2 separate regions of the Homo sapiens genome follow, and region 1 is linked to region 2. Evidence: fine-mapped expression QTL. A gene starts in region 2. The other region holds a variant in brackets. All regions are shown on one strand. Distances are from middle to middle. Region 1 has its middle 16 kb from the start of MYL12BP2. Region 2 holds the start of LINC02363 (long intergenic non-protein coding RNA 2363).

Evidence for each region.
Region 1: its variant is fine-mapped to the expression of LINC02363 in monocytes (BLUEPRINT, PIP 0.95).

The regions. Positions count from the first base shown.
Region 1 is chr4:184,321,984-184,338,864 of GRCh38, forward strand. No RefSeq gene overlaps it. Among named protein-coding and RNA genes, the nearest start is that of MYL12BP2, 16 kb to the left of the region's middle. RefSeq lists an enhancer at 6,022-6,581. The variant A/G (reference allele first, on the strand shown) is at 8,235.
Region 2 is chr4:184,347,984-184,362,328 of GRCh38, forward strand. It overlaps LINC02363 (long intergenic non-protein coding RNA 2363), which reads right to left and starts at 5,994. Exons shown (of 3, transcript NR_040108.1): 1 at 5,330-5,994; 2 at 2,106-2,295. RefSeq lists an enhancer at 5,995-6,064.

The DNA.
Region 1 (16,881 bases), 25 kb before region 2:
GGGAGGCTGAGGCAGGAGAATCATTTGAACCCGAGAGGCGGAGGTTGCAGTGAGCCGAGATCATGCCATTGCACTCCAGCCTGGTGACAGAGCGAGACAGCGTCTAAAAAAAAATTATATATATATATATATATATATATACACACACACACACACACACACATAATATTTAATATGTCAACAAGATTTTTAGATTTTTTTCTTTCTTTTAACTTTTATTTTAGGTTCAGGGGTGCATATGCAGGTTTGTTATGTAGGTAACTTACGTGTCATGGGAGTTTGGTGTACAGATTATTCCACAGCCCAGGTCATAAGAATAGTACCTGACAGGTAGTTTTTCGATCCTCACCCTCCTCTCTCCCTCCACCCTCCAGAAGGCCCTGGTGTCTGCTGTTCTCTTCTTTGAGTCCTTGTGTACTCAATGTTTATCTCCCACTTATAAGGGAGAATATGTGGTGTCTGGTTTTGTTTCTGTGTTAGTTGGTTCACGTAGGATAATGGTCTCCAGCTTCATCCATGTTGCTGCAAAGGACATAATCTCTTTCTTTTTTATGGCTGTATAGTGCTCCATGGTGTGTATGTATCACATTTTAGATTTCTTATTTTAAAAAAATTCAATGCCCCCAAAATGTAATCACCTACAAACATTTCACCAGGTGAAAACTTTCTCATCCCACAAACTTTAGGCCATGGACAGTATGCTTTTCCAGAATCTAGGGAAAAGTTAAAGCCCTGGGCACAAGGTAAATTCACTTAGAATTTCAGGGTAGATACTGATTTTTATTAGGCTCTTGTGCCACTCACAGAAATGCCACATGCTCTTAGTCATCAGCCTCACACTAATACCTGTATACCACATCCTATTCAACAGAAAGGAATATCCACTTTAACACCCATCAGGAAAAAAAAAATGCTCTTTTTAAAATAAATCACTGACAATTTTCTCAAATAAAATGTCGGATCAAAAAATAAATGCAGGCCAGTCATGGCAGCTCATGCCTGTAATCCCAGCACTTTGGGAGGCCAAGACAGGTGAGTCACAAGGTCAGGAGTTCAAGACCAGCCTGGCCAACATGGTGAAACCCCGTCTCTACTAAAAACACAAAAATTAGCCAGGTGTGGTGGTAGGTGCCTGTAATCCCAGCTACTTGGGAGGCTGAGGCAAGAGAATCGCTTGAACCCGGGAGGTGGAGGTTGCAGTGAGCTGAGATCATGCCACTGCACTCCAGCCTGGGCAATAGAGCGAGACTCTGTCTAACCAAAAAAAAAAAAAAAGAAAGAAAGAAATGCATAAACAAATGTATCCCTACAATGGGATATTATTCAGCCATAAAAAGGAATGAAGGGCTGGGCGCAGTGGCTCACACCTGTAATCCCAGCACTTTGGGAGCCCGAGGTGGGAGGATCCTGAGGTCAAGAGATTGAGACTATCCTGGCCAACATGGTGAAACCCCACCTCTACTAAAAATACAAAATTTAGCTGGGCGTGGTGGCACGCACCTGTAGTCCCAGCTACTCAGGAGGCTGAGGCAGGAGAATCGCTTGAACCCAGGAGGCCGAGGTTGCAGTGAGCCGAGATAGCATCACTGCACTCCAGCTTGGTGACAGAGCAAGACTCCATCTCAAAAAACAAAAAACAAACAAGCAAAAAAAGGAATGAAGTTCTGACACAGGCTACGACATGGATGAACATTGATTGGAAACATGCTGCTAAGCGAAAGAAGCCAGACCCAAAAAAGAAACACTGAATGATTCTGCTCATACAAGGAACCTAGAATTGGCAACTTCATAGAGGCAGAAGGTTGAAGAGACGTTACCAGGGACTGAGGGGAGAGAGAGCTGCTGTTTACTGGATATGGAGCTTCTGTTTGGGATGATGAAAATAATGAAAACATTTTTGGAAATAGATGGTGGCAATGGTTGCACAGCATTGTGAATGTAATCAATGCCAGTGTACCGGCCTCCTAAAAGTGGTTCAAATGGCAAATTTTATGTCTATTTCATCACAATAAAAAGTACAAATATGAAAATAAATGACGACTTGGAACACCTTGAGCCATAGAGTTCCGCCTGGGGGTCTTTGGCTGAAAGGACAGACTAGACTGTGTTCCCACGGCTTTTCCATCCCAGAGCACTCACAAGCCCATCTCCTCCATCTCCACGGCCCCTCCCCCCCATTCTGCTGGCCTGACGGCTCTGCTTCCGATCTCAGCCCCACCAGGAAAAGCTTCCAGAATCACAGAAACACATTCTGGGAAATTAGTTTTCTTAAAGCCTTTGCTTTTGGTTTTAATAAAAAAAAATTAAATATCTTGAAAGCAAAACTGCCATCTAAAGCAGGCTAAAATATAACTGCAACTTTAGGAAAACTTAATTATACATGCTATCAATGTACTGGCCCATGATCAATCTATCTACATTTCCCTTTTCTCTCATTTCAGAAAGTAAGAATAAAGTGGCTTTGCTTAAATATAAAAACCTAATCTCTCTTCTCTTCTCTTCCACTTCCTTGTATTAGATTGTCTTCCAGAACTAACCAAGAGGTCCCTAAAGCTGGCTCCAGAGACAGGATCCTTTGAGAATGTCTCTACTCTTTAAAAACACCCACTCACACCTGTAATCCCAGCACTTTGGGAGGCCGAGGTGGGCAGATCATGAAATCAGGAGATCGAGACCATCCTGGCTAACATGGCGAAACCCTGTCTCTACTAAAAATACAAAAAAAAAATTAGCTGGGCTTGGTGGCGGGTGCTTGTAGTCCCATCTACTCGGGAGGCTGAGGCAGGAGAATGGCGTGAACCTGGAAAGCGGAGCTTGCAGTGAGCCGAGATCGCACCACTGCACTCCAGCCTGGGCAACAAAGCGAGACTCCGCTCAAAAACAAAACAAAACAAAACAAATGAAAAAACACCCACATCAGGTTGGCCTTTTAAGTTTCCAGAGACAGAAAATCCCTTAGAAATTTTATCTGTAAACAAAGACCTGAAATTGGTGATTACACATTTCACGTAAGATGGGGAGGGGGGGCTTTTGCTCCAGGTTAACATGCATGGCTTGAACTTGACTCAAGGTCACCAACTAACCTACGTTGAGAAGAACCTTAATGTGATAAAAAGAAGTGAGTGTGAAATTTCCTACCAGAAAATGCTGATGGTTAATTTTCTGTCCACTTGGCTGGGCCAGTGTGCCGATATGTGGCTTAACATGAATCTGGACGTTTCTGTGAGGGTCTTTTGGATGAGATTAACCTTTAAAATGAGGGACTTGGAGCAAAGCAGATTGCCCTTCCCCATGTGGTGGGCCCCATCTAATCAGCTGAAGGTGTGAAAGGAAAATATCCTGGGCCGTCAAAATCACTAAGCTAAAGGAAAATTCAAGCTGGGAACTGCTTAGGGCAAACCTCCCTCCCATTCTATTCAAAGTCATCCCTCTGCTCACTGAGATAAATGCAGATCTGATTGCTTCCTTTGGAAAGGCTAATCCGAAACTCAAAAGAATGGAACCGTTTGTCTCACACCTACCTGTGACCTGGAAGCCCCCTGCCTGCTCCGAGTTGTCCCGCCTTTCCGAATTGAACCAATAGTCATTTTACATATGTTGATTGATGTCTCATGTCCCCTAAAAATGTACAAAAGCAAGGTGTGCTCTGACCACCTTGGGCACATGTCATCAGGACCTCCTGAGGCTGTGTCATGGGCATGCGTTCTCAACCTTGGCAAAATAAACTTTCTTTCTTTTCTTCTTTTTTTTTTTTTTGAGATGGAGTCTTGCTCTGTTGCCCAGGCTGGAGTGCAGTGGCACGATCTTGGCTCACTGCAACCTCTGCCTCCCAGGTTCAAGTGATTCTCCTGTTTCAGCCTCCTGAGTAGCTGGGATTACCAGCACCTGCCACCATGCCTGATTAATTTTTGTAGCAAAATAAACTTTCTAAATTAACTTAGACCTGTCTCAAATGTTGGGGGTTCACAAAGGCCTGTATAGAACAAAAGACTGACCTTCTCCCGAGCAAGAGGGACTTTGGTAGCAGACAGTCTTCAGACTTGACTGCAGGATTGGCTCCTCTCTGAGTCTTCAGCCTGCTGGTTCACCCTGCAGACGTTGGACTTGCCAGCCTCCATAATCACATGAGCCAATTCCTTAAAATAAATCTCTCTATATACCTAAATACACATTCTATTGGTTCGGTTTCTCTTGAAGACGCTGACTAATACAAAGATCTAGGAACAAATCCTGAGTCCCCTGCGACATATTTGCAGAATGATTTCAGTAAACCAATTAATCTCTCTGAGGGTAAATGTCTTCATCTGTGAAATGGAGATTTTTATATTAACTGAAAGTGTTCTGGGGGTAATGTACATAAAGCACATGAGATATCATGGGTGCTAAATAAACAGTAGCTTTTAAGAGGGAATGCCACAGACACAAAACTAAAGAAACCACTTCTCTTCTCCTTAAGTAGCTTATAGCCTTGGAAAAGAGCTAAATAACAATGGAAGTAATGTGTACTAAAACAAAAAAGTAGGGCTTCAGATTCATGCATCTTGGGTATAATGGGAAATAGAATGTGCCACCCCCAAATATGCCACTTTGGCGTAAGAATTGTTTTGAGCTGAAGGCAATTCGCTGTCTGCCATCCCCTATTCTGTCTAAAAACAGGACATAAATTTCCATTTGTAAGGGTGTCTCCCTTTCCCATACCAGGAAGAGAAATACTCCAGAGACAACTTTTAGCACCTGAGGCGACTCTTATCTGCCTAACAAACGTTATTAAACAACACTTGTTTATTATACATTTTCTCCCTTCACCTTCCCATAACTTACCTCCCATCTCAGAAGCCCAAAATCCCCTTTCCTTTGTCCAGCCTAAGATGGTTTATATAAGCTCCAAATTCTAAATGCCTCTTCGAATCACATTTCGTTGTGAATTCCTGTGCCAGCATACATAATTGTATCTGTTATTCTCTCTTGGTAGTCTGTCTTGTGTGAATTTAATTCCTGGGGCCCCCAACCACTGAACACAGGAGAGCAGAGAACAAATGTTTTTCCTCCCCTACAAGTATAATTAAAAGTATAGGAGATCTTGCAATTAAGAATTGGCGTCTGAACCAATATTCCCAATCTCTAATCTCAAACCTATTTTTTTCCTCCTGAACTGATGGTATGTTGACCTAGAGATGATAAAGGCAAAGTTATTTAGGAAGGTAACGCTGGCAGCCAGTTGGGTGGAATAGCTGGAAAAGTTCCTTTAAGAGTGAAAGGATAGGCCAGGTGCAGTGGCTCACTCCTGTAATCCCAGCACTTTGGAAGGCCAAGGCAGGCAGATCACCTAAGGTCAGGAGTTTGAGACCAGCCTGGCCAAAGTGGCAAAACCCCGTCTCTACTAAAAATACAAAAATTAGCTAGGTGTGGTAGCACATGCATGTAGTCCCAGTACTCAGGAGGCTGAGGCAGGAGAATTGCTCAAACCCAGGAGGCAGAGGTTGCAGTAAGCCGAGACCATACCACTCCACTCCAGGCTGGGCCACAGAGCAAGACTCTGCCTCAAAAAAAATTAAAATAAAAAAAGAATGAAAGTATCCATAATTACAGGTAGATTATCATCAGTTTTCTATTTTTGCTAGATGTTGAAATTAGGTGTATTGAATAAAATACATGGGACTTAAAGCCTGAGTAGCTTCTTTCAAATCCCAGCTCTGCTGCTTAGCAGCTGCCACTGGAGAAGTGATTATCCTCTGAGCTTCATTTTGTTCATCTGTAAAACCCGGCGACCAGCACATAGGAAGAACACAGCAAATGCTGGTGTCATTGAACATGCAGATAAATGAATGATTAACAGTCAATGAATTGAAAACTGTTTACCAAACCCAGGCTTGGAAGATTCAAAACAGAAACAGTGGTGTTGACAGAGCATTATATTTTAATGGATGACAGTAAATAGAAAAAGGGGGTTGATTCTGGAAAAGCGGAAAGAGCTTCAGAAATACTGGGAAGCTCCTGGCTTTTGGCGCTCCGTCTTGTTGAAATATTTAAGCCTCAACATACTTTCTCAACCTCATTGTTAGTGAAAGAAGGAAGTTCTATTAAAGAGAGCAAGAGAAAGACCATGCCTCAATAGCCAGAGTAAATCTAGTTTCCATCACACTCAGGGTGACCGGTTGGTCAAGGCAAAGCAGCATGGATGCTCCTGATGTCAGGATTTTTCTGTCCTGACCTGAGATGCTTCTGGGTGAACCCATCAGACAAGATGCTTTCTCAGACTCAAGTTCAACCACGTGGACCTCAGAGAACGTATAGCATAGTGTTTGTTGTTCCAGCTAGTACCCAGACAGGAGTCACCTGTGTGCATGTCTTTGCATGCATCGCCATGGGGGTTTTCCCAGCTCTGGTTCTCTAGTTCACTCGAATGAACACAGGAGGGATCACAAAGGCCTGAAGAATGTGTGTTCTTTTCTTCTGTTTTCCTGCACAGGTGCTAGTGTATTAAAAGCAAGAGCAAAGGGGCAGCCTGATGGCTGACGAGCTGATGAACAAGAGCAGCAGGTGTGTCCCCGCTGTTCCTAGAGAACAGTATGGAGAGTGGATCTCTCCATCACCCCCTCAATTCCCAATTACATCCCAGTTGTCCCATCCTCAGTCCTGAGGGGCTTTCTTAGTTGAGTCATAAGGGTAACCTCCAGGATGTCTCCAGAGCTAGGAGGAAGTTGCATAATATCAGTGTTTTTTAAGTACTTTTAGAAAGCAGTGACATTCATTTGACAAAAAAATTTAATGTACAGTGATTTCTTTCACTTACTGCTGTTGACTTTTCATAAAAAGATAATCTAAGGTCCCTTCCCTCTAGGATGTATTTACAACCTCCTTGGGGAGTCAAACATAAAAATTAAATAAGAGCTATGGAAGGATTACACCGATATAATTAATTTTAAAATTAGATTGAGAGCAAAAACATTTATTGAGCATGTACTATGCTCCAGGTACCTGCATAGGCACTTTTATTTATTCCTCTGATTGAACTGTCCTGTAAGGCGTGGGATATTATCTGCATTTTACAAAAGACAGCTCTAGGCTCAGAATGGTTAAGTAATGACAGGGTTCAGGACATGCTACCCCAAACTGTGGTACCTTGACACACTGAATATCTTAAGCTGAAGGAATCTGAGAGATGGCACGTGCAAGAAGCTCCCTCTCACCTTTCCCCTCACCTTGCCTGCTGAATCAGGTCGTAAAACCTAAGAAGGATTTTCTGACCTTCTCCTGAAGCAGGTCATCGTAAGACCCTCCTGTGAGCGGTGCCCTCCCTAGACCCGGAGAAAGGGAACATCCTTATTTCTGAAGACAAAGAAGAAGCTGAACAAACAGGCCTTGCTCAGTTTCCCCCAGTTTATTCCCATCAGACCACACTCTTTCCCCAATCACGTTTCCGCACACCTGGCCACTTCTCGTCAAACCTGTTGTACAAAAGAAGCCAGGCTGAACTGTTTCTCTGGGTCATTTCCTTATGAAGGTTCCCGTGTCAAGTAAAACTTAGATTAACTAAATGTGTATACTTTTCTCTTCTTAATCTGTCTTTTCTTATATGGGCCTCAGCCCTGAACCTGAGATGGGCAAGGAAGATACATTTCCTCCCGTACCGTGACAAAATAAGTGTCTTCTCGTTCAGAGTTTCCGATTCCAAATCCAGGAGTCTTTCCACTACATCAAACCTAATGGTAAATATTCAAGCATGTACAAAAGAAAGATCCCTGTAGTTGAGTGCATCCAGAGAAGCGCCTTGGCTCTCCCAGTAGTACTGCTCTGACCTGAGGAAGAATAAGGCCTTTATAAGCACAACTTGGCTGCATTCCACTGGCATAAATCCCAATCAGACAGTCAACCCCCTTCCGCATCCCCATCCTCTGGCCTTTTGAGAAAAGGGATCTGCCCTCCTAAGGGAATGTTCATTTTGCCACTAACAGGGAGCTCTCTGAAAAACGCTGTTTGCTGTCCAGTCACACCTCTGTGGAATCTTTTAACACATGGCGATTCTGTGGCAGGATACCTGTGTTGGTTTTGTTTTCACAGAGTGGTCACAAAGCTGAGTTCAAGGTGAGAAGTGAAAACAATTAAATGAATGGTAGCTTTTTCCACATGACTTTTCACTGCAGTGACCCAGCCCGGTCAGCCCCCGCGCCCGCTCGGTGGCGTGCACTTCCCATGACACACACACTCGTGGTATCCATGAGTGCGTGTCAGGA[A/G]AGCAGAAGTGTCACATGGACAAGCGAGTGTCAACAAGAGATGTGCCTCCTCTACACATCATGTGGTTAATGTCCAAACTCACTCATCCCACAGTCACGTTTGACTCTCAGTTGATCACTCTTTGTTCATGTTGAGATTCAACAGGAAATATTGTTTTTACAGGGTCTGGAATTTTAATGAGTCTAAGGATTCCTGATGGTTGTATTGACTTTATTTGTGGGGTTCTCAAAAGGAATCTCACAGTGTAGTCAACAGCAAGGAGTAAGCATTTTCTTACTTACAAAACCAAAGTTATATGTGTGGTACAAAGATGAGAGACTGGGGCCAGGCGAGGTGGCTCACGCCCATAATCCCAACACTTTGGGAGGCTGAGGCAGGCAGATCACCTGAAGTCAGGAGTTTGAGGCCAGCTTGACCAACATGGTGAAACCTCATCTCTACAAAAAATGCAAAAATTAGCTGGGTGTGGTGGTGCACACCTGTAATCCCTGCTACTCAGGAGGCTGAGGCAGGAGAATCACTTGAACCCAGGAGGTGGAGGCTGCAGTGAGCCAAGATCACACCACTGCACTCTAGCCTGGGTGACAAAGCAAAACTCTGTCTCAAAAAAAAAAAAAAAAAAAAGTGAGACTGGGAGCAGAAAGCAAGCAGTACTCACGCCACACTGCTGGGCAGTGGTGCTTAAAGAAAGCGAAAGAACAAACAAATGAAATACCAGCCTCAATGCAAAAATAAGCTGGAATGGAGGAGGTTTTCCATGCTTTTTGAAAGAGGCTGGGTAGAAATTGTAGTCTTGGGGGTTTTGTTGACAGCAAGAATTTCAGCTTTGCCTTAAGTGTTACTCAGAAGGTGAAATGGATTCAGCCAAACGTTACCATATAAACACAAACAGGCACATTTTGAAAACAGTTCCTGGAGTTCCAGGGAGCTCCCCTTTAATTCATCCCTAGCTCAATGCCGTATAGTTAGTGTTCAACGTCCTTCTAAGAAAAGAACTGAGGCGGTTTATTATTAGTGGTGAAGAACCAATACACAGAAATACAAAGGGTCATAGAAAGACAGTAAGCAACATTTCTGCTACAACAAGAGTCCGTAACCATGCTTTACTCCAGCCTCGGGGCTTCTGAAACCTCCCTAAGCTAAGAAACACAAACACATGTATGTGGGCCCATAATAGATGTAGGTGAGGGCTATAGGTCTCCTCAGCTTCATACCAGGTGGTATGTTACAATGAAAGCAAGTCTCAGACGGAATTCGGCCATAAAATAAACATTTAGAAGCCAGCAGGCTCAAAAACGTGGTACAACCAGTTCTGTAAACTCAACCAAGTACTGGTGCTTTGTTCTGCTGGCACACTGACAGGTGCCTTACATAACAGATTCACTTAAGGCAGATGTGACAGTACTCGAACAGCATGATTTAGCTTCATGTCTAGTCAGGGTCAGGTGCAGGAACCTTTCTATGAGCTGTGGATACAAGTCCTGATTCAAATCCCAAACCAGAGACAGCATTTGGAAGGGCATACATTATCCACTAGGCTTTCTAGGTCATAATACCCTGTTTATGCAAGGAGATGCAATCTGATACAGTGCTTCCAGTCAGCCCATAATATTTTGAACAACTCTTACTTCACCAATGAAAATGACTCCTAAAATCCATTATGCCAGATAGCAAAGCTGTTGGTGTTCATTGAGGATAGAGGAAGTTCTTATAGCTGACTCTCTAGAGCAGGAGCTGCTTCTTCTTTTTTTTTTTTTTTTTTTGAGACCGAGTCCAGCTCTGTCGCCCAGGCTGGAGTGCAGTGATATGATCTCGGCTCACTGCAACCTCCACCTCCCAGGTTCAAGCGATTCTCCTGCCTCAGTCTCCCGAGTAGCTGGGAATACAGGCGTGTGCCACCACACCAAGCTAATTCTTTGTATTTTTAGTAGAGATGGGTTTTCACCATGTTAGCCAGGATGGTCTCGATCTCCTGACCTCCTGATCTGCCTGCCTCGGCCTCCCAAAGGAGGAGCCTCTTAATAGTCTTTCAAATTCCAACAGACCACCCCTGGAGTGTGTATATTCATTCCTGAATAGGGCTCTTCAATATTAACTCGCTGCTCCTGGTTGTCAATTAAAAACCCAGAGATAAATACCACTACCTATGCCAACATTTTTAACCATGAATTGGAACAGTGTAATATTTTTGCTGGGATCTTTGATTGTCTCTTGCCAGAGCCCAGACTGGGGATCCAGGCATACACCTGGGCTCAAGACTTAGGAAAGCCCTCTCTCTTTCCTGGCCTTACAGTCTGGAGTCTTGGTCAGAATCTGCCCATCTTCAAACAGTTATGGCTTTCTCTTCTTACCTGTGCCTTCCATCAACCTTGTGAAGTAGGTGACGGTTACCAGGGTTAGAGTTCAGTTATTTCAAGAGCTTATCAGAGGAATTAAGCAGCAATTTTTTTATTTTTTTGCTTCAAGCTATCAGTTCCAAGGTCAACATGATATCTTGATACTCTTAAATGCTCTGATATTTTTTGATTTGCTGTGAAAGGCACACAATATTAACTCTATTAATGCCAGACAAAATACCGTCATAAATACTACATAGGAAGGGCCCTTGACAAAGACAGTCTCAGTGACCAAACTTTAGAAGGCCCCTCTCAGCCCTCTTTTTAACAGGACTCATCCCTGGACCCAGGCTTCAGCCTGCCTAGTCCAGTTTTAGCAGGGATCCTGCTAAGCCAATTTAGTGAGAGTCCCTCAACCTTGACCTCTGACCACACTGGTCTGCCTTCAGCAAGAATCCTGTTAAAGTCAGTTTAGCAAGAATTCCCCTCCCCTTGATATTTTTCTTGGTAATTACTTCTCTTAATAATTTTCTACCCATCAACCTCCCCAGCCCCCATCTGATACTGACATGGCCTAAAAAACTTGAATATCATACTGCTGGACTGAGTGAGGGTTTTCGAAACTCTAGTTGAGTTCATGAAACTGCTAACCCATGATCAAGCAAAACAAGAATTAATTACATAGGACTGAATCAACTAAAGAAGGAGTATAATTTTTATGGCTTTTTGTTTGGAACATTGCTTGTTCTTAATGTTCTATTTTCTGGACATAAGGAACCCCTTTTCTTTTTCTCTTAAGTTAGCTATAATATGTAACAATTTAGTAGATACATTTCTATAACAAAAATGGAACATTTATCTTTTTTCCTAATCCTTCCATAATTCAGAAACTATTACTGAGTATTTTTATGTTCATGGTTGTATTAGTCTGTTCACACTTTGCCATAAAGAAATACCTGAGACTGGGTAATTTATAAAGAAAAGAGGTTTAATTGGCTCACGGCTCTGCAGGCTGCACAGGAAGCGTGGCAGCTTCTGCTTCTCCGGAGACCTCAGGAAACTTCCGGTCATGTGGAAGGCAAAAGGAGAGTGAGGCGCATCACATACTCAGAGCAGAAGGAAGAAAGAGAGAGTGGGAAGGTGCTACACACTTTCTTTTTTTTTTTTTGAGACGGAGTTTCACTCTTGTTACCCAGGCTGGAATGCAGTGGCACGATCTCGGCTCACGGCAACCTCGGCCTCCCGGGTTCAAGCGATTCTCCGGCCTCAGCCTCCCGAGTAACTGGGACTACAGGCGCCCGCCACCACACCCAGCTAACTTTGTATTTTTAGTGGAGATGGGGTTTCTCCATGTTGGTCAGGCTAGTCTCGAACTCCCGACCTCAGGTGATCTGCCCACCTTGGCCTCCCAAAATGCTGGGATTACAGGTGTGAGCCACCATGTCCAGCTGCTACACACTTTTAAACAACCATATCTCACGATAACTCACTGACCAGCACAAGAGCAGCACCAAGGGGACAGTGCTAAAACATTCATGAGAAAATGTCCCCATGATCCAATCACCTCCCCCTAGGCCTCACCTCTAACACTGGGAGATTACAATTGAACATCAGATTTGAGTGGGGACACAGATCCAAACCGTATCAATGGTGATATACTATTTTATATGGGTTCGATAAGAATCTGTCCTTTTTGTAACAGAACATAATTTTAAAAATTGATTAGATAATCAAGGCTTTGACCAAAATGTTTTATTTGAGAATAAGACATGGGGGTCCATTCCAAGATGGCCGAATAGGAACAGCTCCGGTCTGCAGCTCCCAGCCTGATCGACGCAGAAGACAGGTGATTTCTGCATTTCCAACTGAGAATAAGACATAAAATCACATATGAACAGACAGTTTTGAGGAACTAAGGTTAACTTTATGGAGCCAATGCATATGAAGCCCTCCCGGAAAGTCTGCCTGGTACCTGGATTATGGAGTTCCCAGCCTTACAGGTGAGTCAGGAAGGTGACTTTCTGGCAGGCCAAAGAAACTCAGGATGTTTTTAGGACCTCAAGAAGAGAAGAACCCATCTGAATCTCTAGGCATTGCAGATAAGGCCTGGTGGTGCTTGACTTGGCTTTATAGCTTCAAGAACTCTTGAAAGCATAATCTGAGATTACTTGTAAAAAGTTCCAGCAATGCAAACTTAAATAAGCCTACCTGGTCAGTTGCCATTCTTGCTGCAATTATGCAAATAAGTAAGTCAAATATAATGAGACAAGACTTATTTTGTAAACAAGAATAATCTTACTTTGGTTAATTTGGATCAAAAAAGGGGGATGACTGTAGAAAGATATTTTATAAAAACTATAGCACCTTCTTATGGGTTATTATTCTGGTCCTGTACTTGTCTTTCAGGTTTTGTTATCTACTTGTAAATTGAACGGGATCCTGTCATCATGCACAGCTTGTCAGTCCTTACCAAATTCTCAGTTCTTCTAGTTCCCTTTACTATCTGGCTACCACTCTCCAAACTGAGGTTTTTAATTTTTCTCCCACTGTCCTGATTTGGCATCACTGAGAACTAAAACCTAACTTCCCAGATCTTTATTGTGACTGTCTAAAGAAGCCCTTCAAGATGAAGTTGGACACTTCTACACTCTGCTCGGAAAAATAACCATGACTGTGACACTGATGTCTATGCCATCACCAAGGACATTCAAACTGCAAACCAGAAAATCCATGATCTGGGATGGCCACTGCAGTCCTCACCCCATCATCTAAAGATGCCTTGACATCTAGAAATCTTCTCAACTGGCTGCCCTGCTACCAAGTTTCAGCAGGGGGCTCAGCTTGTCCTTAATGAAAAAAAGGCCACCAAATGAGAAATTGACTTATATTGTTCAAAGGAAAGAAGAATGTCTCTTTTTCCCTTGAACAAGAGGAGGGACCAAGAAAGACCCTCCCCTTGACCAAATTTTAGATGAGCTCCTCTGAGGCCTCTTTTCAACAAGCTTTGTCCTTGCATCCTGTCTTCAGCCTGCCTAGTCCAATTGTAACAAGAGTCCTGCTAAGTCAGTTTAGGGAAAATCCTCCCACCTTTGATTTCTCCTCTTAGTAATTTTCCATCCACTGACTCTTCTCCTCCCATTCTGCTCACTGGCTAAAAACCTCCAGTGGTTTTTGCTGTATTCAGAGTTGAGCTCAACCATTTCCTGTCTCCTATTGCACAGTCTTGATACCTATTGCAATAATCTTGAATAAATCTTTCTTACTGCCTTAATAAGTGTAAGAAAATCTTTTTCTTTAATACCATTCTACCCTGATATGGTTTGGCTCTGTGTCCCCACCGAAATCTCATCTTGTAGCTCCCATAATTCCCACATGTTGTTGGAGGGACCCAGTGGGAGATGGTTGAATCATGGGGGCACGTCTTTCCCGTGCTGTTTCTTGTGCTGTTCTCGTGGGTCTCAGGAGATCTGATGGTTTTAAAATGTGAGTTTCTCTGCACAAACTCTTTGCCTACTGCCATCCACGTAAGATGTGACCTGCTCCTTCTTGCCTTCCGCCATGATTGTGAGGCCTCCCCAGCCATAAGGAACTATAAGTCTATTAAACCTCTTTCTTTTGTAAATTGCTCAGCCTCAGCTATGTCTTTATCAGGAGCATAAAAACTAATACATATGCTCATTCAAGATGGATTGGATTTACCCTCCTCCCTGAAAAAAAAAAAAAAGCAAAATATATTAAATAGCAATTTTAAGGTACTGGACACCAGGCAATTAAGGATAATGATACTTTGATACTTAAGAGATGAGACATAAATAATGTCATCCATACAGTGGCCAAAATTTACTACTGTGAAAGAGTTTTGAGGCTAAGATATAGGGAGAGGGAACCCTGGTGGAGCCCCAAGGCCTCCCTGAGTTGGGGAGACAGAGTTGAAGGTTGGAAAAACCACAGCAGTGAGAACTCACAAGCAGGTTCCCAGAGAGGAGAGATTTGTGCACACAGAGTTCTAGGGTTTTGCAGAGGGACCTCCTTAAGTATTCTTCTGAGTATTGATTTGTGCATGCATGACAGAAAATTACCCAAGGCCAAAAGAACCACCTGAGTGGATTAGAAGAAACAATGTCTGATACTCGGACACAGCTAGAAATAGTACCTATTCTTACCAGCCACATTTAAGACCATGATTCATGAAGCAATAAATAGAGTACACAGAAGGGTCTTAACTTAGTAGTGGGGAATAATTATGCCTAAACTGAGCACTGCTGTAGTACCACCTAAAAAATCTTAAAAGCAAGACTTTAAGTATTCAAGTGTTGCCAAGTATCTTAACTGTATTGCAGAACAAAGCTGAAGAACACTTATAAGATTGCAAAGAACCCAAGACCCAACAAGATAAAATTATAGTGGCTGGCATCAAATAAAAAATTACTCATCATGAAAAGAAGGAGGTAAACACTAGCCATAATGAAGAGAATAATCAATAAACTGAAATCAAACCAGAACTGACACAGACAGTAGAATAAACAGAAAAGGACATTAAAACAGTTACTATAGCTGTATTCTATATGTTTAAAAGGTCAAATAGAGACATGGAAGATTTAGAAAAGACTCAAATCATCTACAGATGGAAAGTTCAATATTGAGATGAAAAAAACACTATAGGATTAGTAGCAGATTAGCTATTGAAGAAGGGGAAAAAAGTGAAATTGAAATCATAGCAAAAGACGCTACCTAAAAGGAAACTCAGAGGGAAAAAATTCTTTTAATGAACAGAGCGTCAGTGAGCTATGTAGACTAGCCAATGGAATTCACATGAAAAAGCTACTAGAACTATTAGCAAAGTTATAGGCAAAATCAATTGCATTTCTATATATTAGCAATAACCCATTGGCAATTGAAACGGAAAGAAATAATACCTTTTACAATTAGGTCAAAAATATTAAATACTTAAGAATTAATCTGACAAAACTCTGAAAGATCTATATACTGAAAACCATACAACATCGTTGAGAAAAATTAAAGAAGACCTAAACAAATAAAGAAATATACTTTGTTCATGGGAGGAAGACTCAATATTGTTAAGATGTCAGTTCTCCCCAAAATGGTCTATAAATCCAGTGCAATCCCAATCAAAATCTCAGTAGGCTTTTTTTTTTTTTTTTGGAGAAATTGATAAGCTGATTCTAATACTTTTATGGAAATGCAAGGACCTAAAATAGCCAAAACAGTTTTCAAAAAGAAGAACAAAGTTGGAGGCCTAATATGACATTATTTCAAAGCTTATTATAAAGGAACAGTAATCAAACTAGTGCAATTTTGGCATAAAGTTAGAAAAACAGATCAATGAAGCAGAAGAGAGAGTCCAGAAACAGAACTGCACATTTATGTGTTGGTGAATGCCAGGGATTCAGCTTAGGTCTGATTGCTCACCACACAGAAAGCCAATCACTGAGACAACAAGTACTGCCAGGAAGAAAGGCTTTATTGCTGGTGATGCCAGCCAGGATATGGGAGACAAGTCTAAAATCTGTCTCTGTAACCAATAAAGTTAGGAGTTTATGTAGGAGTTGCTCAACAGGCAGTAGGTAGTTGAATCAGGGTTCTGGCACCTTGCTGTTAGGATGCAGCGATCTGGAAATCTTCAGCTTTCTGATACTATCTGGGAGGCCTGACAGCTGGTTTCCTGAGAAATAAACTCAGATAAGACAAATGTAAGTTTCTCAAGCTTTAAAACCTGGAGAGTCCACTTCAATGTTCATTAAAAACAAAAACAAAAACAAAAAACAACAACAAAACTGTAAACAGTTTTTCCCATCAGTTCTATGGGAAAATTGGGTCAGTTTCATTGGCATGACCAACTTTTTACAAAGATGCAAAAGCAAGTCAGTGGAGAAAAGACAGTGATTTCTATCATATCATCACAACAGTGAGGTTGGCACAAGTGGTAATCTATATGCAAAAATTAAAAACCTCAGTCCTTACCTTGCACAATGTATATAAACTAACTCAAAATGGATCATATACCTAAATGCAAAACCTAAAACTAAAACTTCTAAAAGAAAACTCTTGTGACCTTGGGTTAAGTATCTTAAATACTATGCTAAAAGCATGATTTATTAAAATCATAAATTGATACATCTGACTTCATCAAAATTTAAAACACCTGCTCTTCAAAAGACATTGTTAAGAGAGAAAAGTCACAGACTAGAAGAAAATATTTGCAAACCATATCTCTGATAAAGGGCTTGTGTCCAGAACATATAACACACTCTCAAAATTCAATAATAAGAAAACAAACCCAATTTTTAGA
Region 2 (14,345 bases):
TGGTAGAGGAAATAGCTTGTCATTAGATCAAAAAAATTGTCATGAAAGTCCCTGCTCTTCTGCAAAATTAACAAAGCCAAGGCCTCCTCCCTTGGAGCCTGCCTCACCTGACAGAGGTGTGTCTGGCAACGTCTGGACGCACCTGGGACCCAGAGCAGCCAGCGGGAGGCTTTCGGGCCCCCTCAGCAAGAGGAAGTGCATTTGAACACCTGGAAACAAAATGCATGTCTCCGGACTGCCCTTCAGTAAAACATTGCTTCCAACTCCTGATATGCAGCTTTATTTTCATTTTTTAGATTATCTCTCGGTAATAGCCAGGACATAACTCATGGCTGACTCCTTTTCTAATTCTCCAACTTGCCTCAGTGCCTCCCAAAGCCTAGTCCCCGATGGTAAGGCTCTGTGACCCAGCGGTCAGGGTGAGGCCCATGGCAGTCGCCTGGTTCTATTAAGAAACCTCTATTTGTAGTCCTGCGCTTCATTAGATAAACTGGTTTTCTGCATGTAGACTGCAAGTAATCACCGCATACAAACAAAATGAACTCTGCCGCCTAGCACTAGATAAGTAATGCTTCAGAAACTATTACTCTAGGCCTCTTCATAAACTCAGTCCCTTCCCAGCCGCCTCCCCACCCCACCCCCTGGCTAAAGTGAACGTGTACTTATTTGCTGGCTGAAATTCTGTCTATCCTGGTTTCACAATCCTCCCTGCCTCAGTGTCAGAAGTCATATAGTTGCACAGACAAGCTTATCTTTTGGCAGCAATTTCTAAAACAAATGTAAGTCCTTTGCTTTTCTCTCCCCTGCCAACCCCCGACACTGTACTGCATCGCATAAGCTTCCAAGCTTGCTTTTAAAGCTTCGTCCTTGAGCACATGGGACATGGAAAAATACTGCCTGATAGGGTGGCTAATCTAGTGGGATGATTGGAGATCAGTGGATTAGGGAGACTGTGGCGTCAATTGAAGATCAAGGTCCACTGTGCTTCATGCCACTCCTTTAGAACACAAAGGCCAATATCATTCTTGCCACACCAGCTTAAAACCCGATACCTCGGAAGCAGGTTAGGCAAGGCAGCACAAGGACTTGCTGAACCCAGAGCAAGCAAATATCCCCACCTGCAAGCCTGCTTGGCAGAGCAGGGCTGACAGTGGGGCACAGAGAAAGTTACCTCAACCATTCTGTACTCCTCTTGCCTTTAACGAGCCCCCATTTTAACCAAGTTTCATCCCTCCTCTTTTTAAAGCCTCTCGAAGGACCCATAATTGCCCTTGATAGAGCTCCTTCACATGTAATTTGAATGTAATTCACTTACATAGTCAATCTGATCAGCACTTACTAATCCATTGCCTATAACTCATTTTTCATTATTATTTCTTGAATGAGTGATTTAAAAAATTGCATATGCATATCGTTCCCAAGTCTCTCTCTGAGCCTCTTTGTGACGGGGATGGAGTAAGCACCAGCTTGTATTTCCTTCCTAGTTCCCCTTCCTGCGGCGCTTCCCTCTTGGGGAGATTTCGGTGAATGCTGAAGATACTTTCTTGGGCAGAAATGAAGGGGCTTTCCATCCTCTGTGGAAGAACCACATTGACAAGCCCCCCAGCACCCCACCTTCTTATTCCCAGTTGTGTGACCTCAGTTTCCCTGACCGTCTCTGTGCCTCTCCTCGCAGCCCTCTTGAGGACTTGTTTCTCCACCCCATGGCTGCTCTGCCAGGCATGGTCTAGGCCTGGACATCAGCAGTCACCAGGTTTGCTTCCGAGGAGCAGCGGCAGCAGGAGGAAGTCTGAAGCTGTGGTGAATGTGCTCCTTTTGGAGCAGGGCCCAAGGCCAACCTGAGTCCAGGAGGAAGAGATGAAGCAGGACAGCTGCAGTGGAGGATGAGGACAGGGGGACGCAGAAGCACCTTCCTGCTGAAGTGTACCGTGAGGGGGTGTGGGGACCACACTTGGGGTTCTGCAGCAGCAGCTGGAGAAGAGGGTCACCTCAAATTGCAGAGGATGCACTGGAAGGCAGAAGGGGGAAAGAGACTCAGAGAGAAACAGGGGGAGGGAGAGTAGGGAGAAGCAGGGGGAAAGGGTGAGGGGAGAGAAAAGAATTACCTGCACAAGATGGCCACTTGGATGGAGGATGAGGAATAGAGAGCCCGGAAGGCGAGAAATAGGTCTAAATTCATGGCACACATTCATACACAGGAGGCCTGGATCTCTGTGGGCGCTGGGGTGTGTGTGCACCGAAGGTCCACCTGGCCTGTAGTTGGTATGTCGATGAGGCCTTTTCCCTCTCAATGTCCTGTGATAGCCGGAAGCATTATAATTGCTTAAAGGATGGTGGCTAGAAAAGTTGAGAAAGTACATATTCCCTAGAGTGCTCTGCTATATTTTTCTACGTTTTTATTTCCTCCAAGAGTGACAATCCCTCAAAAGCTCAGGAGGCTGCTTTGAAGGGGGAATTAGGGGCCAAGAGGCTTGAACGCCAAGAGAGGGAGCTGCGCTATCTCTAGGTGTGAGAATAGGGCTGGCCCAGCCTCCTGAAGAGGGGCTTCTCCAGGCCCAAGCCCAGGACCAACAGCAGCTGTGGGTGTGGGAGAGCGGCTGCTCTGGCCAATAGGACTACACCAACTGGGGTGTCTGAGCCAAACAAAGCCCACCAGGGACACCCCATGTTGGATCGGGCACCATATTTTCCTCCTTCCACCTGGAAAGTGATGCTGTAAGCTCCCGTCTGACTCATTCTCCAGGCTCAGCTTGAGCCCACCTCCAGCAAGAGGCCTCCCCAACCTGCTCCCACCCTCATTTAAACCAACAGCCCTCATGGCATCTACCAATTACAGTTTGCTGTTCATCAGTTTTTCCAAGCAGATTAATATTTTGAGGCCATGAGCAGTAGGGTTTTCAGAATTAAATAGAAAACTTTAGCACTGTTTGAAAACTTTAAGAAAAAAATCGGACTACCAGCAGAAGTGTCTTCCATGAGTGCTTTATACTTTTAAACTGGACTTTTTTTTTTTAATCTGGGAAAGTTGCAAATGAAGATGAAGAATCTGCAAAGACGTATCCCCCGGTGTTTAAAAAGAAATGCTTGGCCAAACAGGCTACCTTCAGGTTGTATTTTTTATTTTAATGAAGCAGGTCGGTCTCAGAAAGAAATGTCATAAAGAAAATGTGGCACATATACACTGTGGAATACTACGCAGCCATAAAAAAGAATGAGATCACATCCTTTGCAGCAACATGGATGCACTGGAGGACATTATTCTAAGTTAATTAACTCAGAAACAGAAAACCAAATATCGCATGTTTTCACTTGTAAGTGGGAGCTAAACATTGGGTACACATGGTCAAAAAATGGGAACAGTAGATACTGGGGAATACAAAAAGCAGGAGAAGGAGAGGGGGTTAAGGGTTAAAAACTACTATCTATTGGGTACTATGCTCACTACCTGGGTGACAGATTCATGTGTGCTCCAAACCTCAGCATCATGAAATTACAGCTTTGTAATAAACTTGCCCACGTACCCCCTAATTCTAAAATAAAAGTTGAAAAAAAAAAGAACACTTCATTTGCAAGGAGGAAATCAGAAGCCCAGGGTATAAAACTGCAAAGGATGTACGGTGGGAGGGAGATGTGACGCCAGTGGAGATTTAACTGTATCGATTATACTGATATTTCAACTAGCATCGTTACTGTTCTTGGTAATAGTAACAAGGCTCTGGTTATAAGTTCCGTTAAGTTTTGAATGGTCTGCCCACCTCTACTTTTCCCATGAGCTAATTATTTTTCACCCTTCGTTTTCCAGAAACGAGAGTTTTCATGGGCGATGAGGCGGATGAACGTATGAGATTGCAGTAGAAGCTCCAGTATGCGGCGATTTCTGGCTTATTGACCTATGACACTTTTTTTCTGGATTCTTATCTCATTTAACTTTGCTATTTGTATTAGTTTCCAAATGCTACTATAGCAAATTTCCACAAGCTTAGTGGCTTAAAACAACCCAACTGTGTTATCCTACAGTCTGAAGGTCAGAAGTCCAAGTTAGGTCTCACTGGACTAAAATCAGGGTGTAGACAGGGCTGTGTTCCCTCCCGCCTTGGCCAGCTTCTAGAGATGCTCTCACTCCTTGGTTCAAGGCCCCTCTCGTCTTCCAAAGAGAGCCATGTCCGGTCTTAACTCGCATTAACTCCAACTATCTTGACTCTTTTGTCCACTTATCAGGACCCTGTGACTACACTGGGCCCACCTGGATAGTCTAGACTCATCTTCCCATCTCAGATCTTTAACTTAATCTCATCTGCGAAATCCCTTTTGTCATGTAAGCTAATGCTCACAGGTCCGGGGATCAGGATGTGGACATTTTAGGGGTGTCATTATCCTGCCTGCCACGCTGTGGTTATTCACCTTTCTATGTGTTCATGCTTTGGCACCCCCAGCAGATGGGAAGCTCCTCTGGGGAGTGGGGTACTGCTTCTTTGTCATTCTGTTCCCCATAGCAATTGCCCAATTCAGATACTCAGAAGGTATTTTTCAATTAGTTTTCCTTCCTGACTCCTGGTTTGAATAACACAGAAGTGTATTTCTAGGTAGTAGCTGTGTTGAGCCAGCCATGGTATCTTACCTTCTTGCTAGTCAGTGGGATACAAAGATGATTCAATATTGCCCCAATTTTCAATAAATTTGCCAGGTCGGGCACGGTGGCCCTCGCCTGTAATCCCAGCATTTTAAGAGGCCAGAGCAAGAGGATTACTTGAGCCCAGAAGCCCAAGACCACCCTGGGCAGCATAGTGAGACCTCGTCTCTAGAAAAAAATTTAAAAACTTAGCTGGGCATGGCGGTGCCTGCCTGAAGTCCCGGCTACTTGGGAGGCTAAGGTGGGAGGATTGCTTGAGCCCAGAAGTTAGAGGCTGCAGTGAGCCATGATCACACCACTGCACTCCAGCCTGGGTGACACAGTGAGACCATGTCTCAAAATAAATAAATAAATAAATAAATTTGCCTTGCAAAATGTTCAAGATGGCTGGACAGCACCCACAGGGTAAGCTCTTTGACACAGGAACGACACATACAACTAAAGATAAAAATAATGTGATACTTGATTGAGCATAATTTTATGGAGCAGAGGTAGCTAGAATGAGTGGAGAAAGCAACCAGGGAGAAGAGAGCCGAGTGGGTTATTCTCTCCAAATTTTGAATAAAGTCATGGGAAAATCAAAGTAGTAGGAAGGGGTCAAAATGAAGCGTGCAAAGATGTAAGAGTATTATCACGAGAACCCAAGACAGCAAAATACGTGTATGTCTAAATACACCAGAACAGCAAAGGAGAGCTTACCTTATTTAAAGTGACATAAATAAAATTGTAAAACGTAGGGATGCTACTGGAGGCTGAGGGTGGAGGAGACACTGATATAAGCAGCTTTCTTGGTCCTTTGCTTTTGTCGATCAATTTTCCAGGATTAGCTAAAATGCAGCCAGATTTATCCCAGTAAGAAAAAACGTACCCCCTTTCTGGATGCCCAGAGCACTTTGTTTCCTCAGTACAAAGCAGTGACCACATGTGGCTTCAAATTTTGCCATGGAAATCCCCTTACACCCCCTGAAAGCAGATTCAGGTGTGCTAGATGGTATTTTCCAAAGATGAAACCGTCACAGTATCTCCTACTCATGTGCTTCCAGAACTTCGCCACTACCTAGTCAAGACGTAGAGCCTAATTCCGTTTCCTTGAGTCAAGGCAGGTTTGGGACTCACTCACAACCCATAGAAGGCAGTACAATGGATGCTGCCTAGCTTCTAGGTCATCAAAGGCGGCTGAGCTTCTGTCTTGCTGGGGCATTTGCTCTCGGAGCCCTGGCCTTCCACGTGAAGTCCGAGTACCCAAGGCAGCCATGCTGTGAGGGAGGCCACAGTGCCTGGGGAGGACCAGGATGGACGCTGCAGTCAGCGGACCTCATCCTCCAGTGCTCCAGGCCAGGGTTAGACATATAAGGAAAGGAGCCGTTAGACCATAATACACCCCAGCTGCTGCGTTACCCACAGTGGTCACAGCCCCAGCTGTCATGCAGCAGAGACAAGCCACTCCTGCTGTCTAAATTCCAAACCCGCCAGGTGTGGTGGCTCATGCCTGTAATCCCAGCACTTTGGGAGGCTGAGGCAGGCGGATCACGAGGTCAAGAGTGCAAGACCAGCCTGACCAATATGGTGAAACCCCGTCTCTACTAAAAATAGAAAAAAATTAGCCGGGCATGGTGGCACTTGCCTGTAATCTCAGCTACTCAAGAGGCTGAGGCAGGAAAATCGCTTGAACCCAGGAGGCAGAGGTTGCAGTGAGCGGAGATCGTGCCATTGCACTCCAGCCTGGGTGACAGAGTGAGACTCCATCTTAAATAATTAATTAATTAATTAATTAAATAAAATAAAATAAATTCCAAACCCACAGACTCTGAGAGCATAAATAAGATGATCTTTTTAAACCACTAAATTAAGGGGTGACTTCTTATGCAGCAACAGTACCGGGGGAACCAGGTATGAGCAGTGCACATATTTTCACTGAATTTATATTGTTTGGGAAGTTTTCCTGGTTAAGAGTTCCGATTATAGACATTATGTTAACAGAGAAACCAACACCTAGGACGATTAGAGGGTAATCAGTGGCTTCTCCAGGGCTTCAGCTACAGTGATGGGTGAGAGGAACATGACAAGGATCAATTCTGAGAGTGCTGGCCGGGTGCAGTGGCTCACACCTGTAAGCCCTCATTTTGTGAGGTCGAAGTGGGTAGATCGCTTGAGTCCAGGAGTTCAAGACCAGCCTGGGCAACACGGCAAAACCCCATCTCTACAAAAAATACAAAAATTAACTGAGAGTGGTTGTGCTCACCTATAGCCCCAGCTACTCAGGAGGCTGAGAAAGGAGGATCACTTGAGCCTGAGGAGGCCAAGGCTGCAGTGAGCCGTGATGGTGCCACTACACTCCAGCCGGGGTGACACAGTGAGACCCTGTATTTAAAAAAAAAAAAAAAAAAGTATTCTACTTGAAGCAAGAAAAAAATATTTTCTGGAAGGGAATCACTTTCCTAAAAAAGAAAAGTAGCAGAATTTTTGTGCCTAGGGACAACTGAGAATAGGCACCCCCTCACCCATGCTGTGTCCTCCAGGATGAGCTGCCCACAGGTGAGGTGGGGGACCACCACCCAGCTTAGGCAGGAGTGGCCCCTGCAGGGGCAACACAGCGAAGAAGGCTTATCAAGCAGGATGGGGGTTTCCAAGCAGTGCTGCAAAAAGGCCTTTCTGTTGTTTTTTATGTAAGTCTGTTTCATGCCACATTTTGGGTGAAACACACACACACACACACACACATACTGCACAGCTGACAGTGGACAGGACTTCCTGGTGACTCTGGGTAAAGTCATTGTTGCTGGAAGAGAAGGGAAATGCATGTTTCCGGTGAGTTTTGCCTTATGTGGCTAAAATGTGAGGAACTTGGCAAATTTCCCAGTGCAAGAAGTCTATGGGACAGTCTGAAAAAGGAAGGGAGGATAATCTCCACCAGTTACTGAAGTGAAAGTGAACTGTTCTTTTCTGGGGACCCTTCCTTACAGAGAAAGGGTTGAAATGAAAAACACAGCACAGCCAATTTTGTAATATTATCTGGCCAGTTTAGTAGCCTATAGGTATTGTTTAAGGCATTTAGAAATTCAAGTGGTTGTTAGGACTATTTTTTTCTTTGCTTAAGACATCTAACCAATTTTGCATAAACTAGGATGGGGAATATAAAGGCCTTGGTGTTTCTTTTCCAGTTAAATAAATCTATCAATAAATAATTATGGAGCAGGTAACTCCCAAAATGTTTACTTGGATAATGAAATTCCAAGAAAGAGCCTTTAAAATTTGTAGTAGGCTGGGCACGATGGCTCACGCCTGTAATCCTAGCACTTGGGGAAGCCGAGGTGGGTGGATCATTTGAGTCCAGGAGTTTGAGACCAGCCTGGACAACGTGGTGAAAACCTGTCTCTACAAAAAGTTTAAAAATTAGCCAGCCTGTAGTCCCAGATACTCAGGAGGCTGAGGTGGGAGGATCATTTAAGGCAGGGAGGTCAAGCCTGCAGTGAGTCGTGATTATGCCACTGTACTCCAGCCTAGGTGACAAAAGCAGACCCTGTCTCAAAAGATAATAACAATAAGTAAATAATAAAAATTTGTAGTAAATAGATGTCTCTTTTTGGGGCTTATTCTGCATTATAAATTCACTCAGCATCAAGGCCACAGGATTAACTTTTAAACGTCAAGCTTCCTTCTTGTCCTGAAATGTGTCAACAGGTACTGAGTGTTGGCTCAAAGTAACTTGGTCTTACCTGGGGTAATCCCCTACCAGATACCCTCAATTATCTGGTCACTACAGAGCCAAATCTCCAGCATGCCTGGGCTGACATTCTGGAGAAAGTGAATCACAAATCACCTTGAATTAAGGTAACGTGGCTTCTACCACACAAAAGCCCCAAACCTCAGTGATGAAACACAATAGAAATTCACTTCCCACTCATGCAGGAATTGGCGCAAGGCAAGAATGAGGGACGTGCCAGACAATCCTGTGGAGCCTATGCCGAGACAGGCTCTGCCATCCTACGGGCATGTCCCCAGCACTGCTGCCAACAGATAGGATCAGAGAGCAAAGGATGGGCCGGAGCGTTTTGTGGGCCAGGTGTGGAAGTGTCATACATCACTTCCTCCTAGCTTCCCATGGCCAGAACTGTCACCTGGCCCAAATTATTAAGTAGATGCAGGTGTCTCTTGAAAACATCTTCTCTGGCTGAGCAGCCACTTCCCAGCAACAGAGAAGGGGAGCAGAATTCCCTGATGAACATCCAACCTTTGGCCACCATGTCACTTACACTATGGATTCTACCCAGCCCCAGCCTGTGGGATAGCTCCACAGATGATCAAACCGCTCCTAGTCCCAGCAGGTCCATAAGACCATGCTTTGCTGTCTTGATCTGTATTACATTCATTTGGAGCAGTACTTTGGAGCTGGGAGATGGTCCTTCCTGTGGGGATGCAGCAAAGATGGATGAGGCTAGGTCTGCCCAGCTCATCCTGTTTCCAGTGCTCATTCACCAAGGAGGCCAACCAACATGGGAGGTCCTTATGAAAGGAAAGCATGTTCCTCTGGTGCTCAATGATAGATGAACACCTCAGCATATGCAGGGCCCAGGGCAGGCTCAGGTGTCGAGAAGATTTGCTGTGGAACTAGGCCCTGGCCAGGATTTCACTTAGTAATTAACTCTAGGTGTTCTTTTTCCTCTGTGAGTAGCTACTAATGATATAATGGCTGGATTCAATGCTGAAGGTAAGCAGACCTGCTCAGAGATCTGTTTATTTACATAATGAGTTAGCTTGCCCTGTGGCCCCATCACTCTCCTATGTAAATCTAGATTATTTTTAAGGAATGGCAAATATAAGCCATGATTTATTGTTAATTCATTATACTAGGCACTGTGCAAAATACAGTACAGTTTTTATTTATAATAGTAACAACAGCTCTGCAAGGTAGACATTATTGTTTTTATTTTAAAATGAGGTGCAAGGTTAGATAGCTCCTTCAAGGTAGCTGATGAGCAGCCGAGCTAAGACTGGAGTCCTGGCCTATGCAATTCTAAGCTGTGCTCTCCTTCCTACGTGCCATATGATGCATGCCCCACCACCATGCTGTGGGATGCTTGCCACCAGCCTCCTAGAGTAAATGCCTGGCACACACACAGCGAACACCCACCCACTCATCCCCACTGATGAGACTCACCGCAGTAAGCCTTCTCAGGACACTAACAGTAAGCATGGTACACTCACCTTGATAGAGTAACTCCCGTGTGCAAGAAGTTTGTAGAAAACATATTCATTGAAAAGTGAGTGTCCATTGCACATGACTGTGCATATCAACAACATATAATCTGGCCACACCCACCCCTCTTTAGCCATGCCAAGGGTGAGCTGCAGAGTTACAACAGCTGTTTTGGATTCTTGTAAGTGTTCATGTCATCATCAGTACGAGGTCCACTTCTCTTCACTTCTGCTTCTTCACAGTTAACAAACCAGGGAAGTGTGCCTTGTCTTTCTCCAGATAGGTTAAAAAGGCCGCAGGAATTCAGAGAGTAACCAACTTGTCACTAATACAGCCTTTTTGCCAGGCCACCAGAGCATTTGAAAAGATAGTTACTACTGCTAAGAGTCATATCATTGAGCAGAACCTTGTACAGTGAAACATTTTTATGTGTGTCTTTGAATTCTTTAAGCAAAGGCAGAGCAGTTTGGTACTGGAAATCACAACAAAGAAAAGCACATTGCACATTCCCTAACTGCCATTATTAAAATAATTACTTCATTTATTGGAGTGTTTCACATTGCCGGGCACTATCATGGGTGCTTTACACTCATTGTCTTATTCAGTCCTCACATTGCTCCTACAAAGACTATAATTTTATTATTTCCCTTTTGCAGAAGAAAACAAAAACAAACTAAGAGTCAGATTAAGTAAGCACATAGCACACGACAGCAGAAGGTGAGCCCAGGTTTGTTTGAATGCCTCTAAAGCCCATGCTTTTTCCTTTGTACCAGATAGCTAGAGGCCCCAAAGCTGTTTGCAAAAAATGCCAGCCCAAAGGAAACTCTAGCATGAAGTGGGGAGCCTGTCCAGTGCCACATGGCCGTGTTGCTGTTGTGCCCTTACAAGAAAGGGAACACAGTGTTCCAAAACTGCACAGGGACTGTAAACAAAATAAATGGCAGCTCTCAGAATTGGTGCTAATCCCTTGCTGGAGGCTGATTTCAGAAGAAGCCTACTGTGCAGCATTTGACTAGGTAGCCTGGCCCCCAAAATATTAAAAGAAAGTGCTGAGAACAATGTCTGTTTTGTGAGTGTGTATGCATTTAAGGCAGATTATCTCTTCCTATGCCAGTGCTTTCCTGTGCGTATCAGATCTCAAATGCTTGCTTAGTTATTTAAGAATTCCAAGGAAGCCTGAAATGAGCTTTTATAAGGAGAATTCCAAAGCTGACATTTGTTGATGGAAATAATTTCATAAGGTTTGACAGAATGGAAGATTTGCAATTGCATTTGGAGGCAGCAGTGGGATGGAATTACAGGAAGGACCCCTGCCAGCATGTCCCTCATACATAATAAATAAATAGAGCACGGCCATGAACCAATGACTTCAGATGAAAATGCTCGCATGTAAACATACACGTATTTTATAATTTATTTGTAACAAAGGCCTTAGGAAGGTATAGGTGAAAATGAGTTCATAAGATATGCCGTCAGCCAGGCACAGTGGCTCACTGTGATAATCCCAGCACTTTTGGAGGCTGAAACGGGTGGATCGCCTGAGGTCAGGAGTTCGAGACCAGCCTGACCAACATGGTGAAACCCCATCTCTACTAAAAATACTAAAAAAATTAGCTGGGCGTGGTGGTGGGTGCCTATAATCCCAGCTACTCGGAGACTAAGGCAGGAGAATCACTTGAACCCGGGAGGCAGAGGTTGCACTGAGCTGAGATCGTGACATTGCACTTCAGCCTGGGCGACAGAGGGAGACTGTCTCAAAAAAAAAAAAAAAAAAAAAAAAGATTTGTCATCTATTGACTGCAGTCTATCAAGTCCTAGATATATTATCTTATTTAATCCTGACAACATCTTGTGAGTTTGTGGAGAAAAGGATTCTCATGGCCATGCTACAGATAAGAAAATTGAAATTCAGAGAGGTTAAGTCCACAGAGGGTAGTAAGCGGCTGAGCTTAGATTCAAATCCAGGTCCTGCTTCCAAAGACAGGCTCTTTCTCACTTCTCTGAATAACAGACTTCACATTTCCTCGCACAGCTGAGCATCACTTTGAAGTTCCTATTCCTCCCTCCGAGGCATCTGAGGAATCCTTGGGACTAGGAAAAAATAATGATATGTACGCAGAGGTTGTTTATTTGTTTACACACACAGCCCTTCCCTACCCTACGTTGTTGTTGTTGTTTATGTGCCAGAGTCCCCAGAGCCTGCTCTCCACAGTGTGAGATAGTACATACCCTCATCGGCCTGTAAGCTACCTCCTTTGAGCTTCGAGAATTTGCCCATAAATTCCCACACATCATAGGATCCTTAGCTTTGACTGAGTTCCTTCGCATTCTTTGTGACCTGGAAGCTTTCCATTTTTCAGACTTAAAGATACTGCTGTGAACAAGTAAACATGTAACAACATCTGTTCTCCATTTGAAGATCCATTCAATCACACTGGTTTCTTTCTCTGCTCCCCTAACTTCATGGGGGCAACTGGCAACATGTCAGGAGCAGGGACTCATCGATTTTCTGTTTTAAGTGCTACCCCTTTTCTCTTTTCCTTGTCCTTCCCAATAATACCCACAGGCCTGTGTTAGGATTCCTTCCAGCGCATGTCTTCAGGGTATAACAAGAGTCACAGGTGAAATTATGTTAGAGGCAGGGTCTGAGCTGCTTGGCTGCTTTCCCTCATTCACCTAACTTCATATTGCAGGGCTAAGGGAATCCAACATCATTTTACCCATTCTTGGGATCTTGAAAGTTCTTTCTACAGTTTAACATCGTTATTCAATTAATGAAAGATTTCGATGACACTGTAGACTTGGAAAATTCACTGAACAATTCTATTCCACAGTTATTTCTGAAAATGTTACATAAAATCAACTTCTGGTGCTCCCAGTTCCCAAGAGGCCACATCTTCAATATTTCTTTGTCATGGATGCATGAAATTGTTTGAAAATAGAAAGGAAGTTTTACTTCCCTTGCTCCAAAACCCAGGATAACTTTCGATTTAATAGGCCTCTTTAAAGTCTGGGAACCCATGCTATTGCCTCCCCTGTTATCCACAAACCCACTCATCAGCCCTTTCCCCACTGAAGAATGAATGAGGCGTGACTCCCTGCCCAAGCAGCATTTCTGCCACTACATCAAAGCTCATTCATGCTTTGAGCTCCCAAAACGTAAATCCAAAGAAAACCTAGCATAAACGTTTTGCCCTGGTCAACAACTATCTGTCAAGTTAGATAACAGTGCAGGCTACCTTCTTCCCAAGTCAGGTCCTCAATATGGGAAAGTAGAGGAGGGAAAAATAGAAATTCCAGTCCGGTTTGGGTGGGTTAAAGAAGGAGACAGGGAGATTCAGGATTTGTGGGATCCCAAAGCTTATAAAATTTGAGGCATCCTGTTTAAGGAAAAAAAGTAAGATTATAAATATAAAATTATATATGAGTGTTAATATTTAGAATAAGAAAAGAACACAAGACAATAAATAATTTTTTAAAAAATGGCAAATAACACAAACGTGAAGTCCAAAAAATTAAGATTTTTCTTTAAATAACTGCTTAAAACATCTCTATCATACTTTTTCCATATGTTTATTAGCTGCCTATTTTATAATTTTGTAAATATAATTTACAAAAGAAATTATAAAAGAAATATAATTGCTTCTCAGACTTTTGGCTAAGACCAAGTATGGAGAATGGAAATATAACGCAGCCTTTTCTCCAGCATATTTGGTCAAAATTTGTTTTTTATTATCAAGAAGCTTGGAAAAGTTTCTTTTGGCTTCACAATTCATTCTTAATGATGTCATACACATATTTGGGTTGTTGTCAAGTTTCGGGAAATCCCTACGGCCTTTCATACAGGAGCTTTTGTAGACATGTTCATTATTTATAGTAATGCTACAGATTCCTGGCCAGTAAATATAGAAAGTCTGACAATTCTGGTTCATGCAATTCCTATCAAAAGCTAAAAATATAAGTATGATGAACTTACAATTGTATACTCTGCATTACTAAGTATATTAGTCTGTTCTCACATTGCTATAAAGAAATAGCTGAGACTGGGTAATTTATAAGGGAAATAGATTTAACTGGCTCACAGTTCCATAGGCTATACAGGAAGCATGGTGCTGGCATCTGCTCAGTTTCTAGGGAGGCCGCAGGCAATTAACAATCATGGTGGAAGGCGAGTGGGGAGTAGGCATGTCACATGGCCAGAACAGGAGCAAGAGAGCAAGGGGGAGGTGATACAACTTTTAAACGACCAGAGCTCACAAGAACTCATTTGTTATCATGAGGACAGTACCAAGAGGGATAGTGCTAAACCATTCATGATCTGCCATCAGGATCCAATCACCTCCCACCAGGCCCCACCTCCAACATTGGGAATTATATTTCAATATGCAATTTGGGTGAGGACATGTATCTAAACTATATCCCCAAGGTTATTCTGAACTGGGGAGAACTACACTTTTGAATAAGCATCATTAAGAATCAAGTCCTCTACCAACAGTTTTATCCTGTGATGGCTGGAAG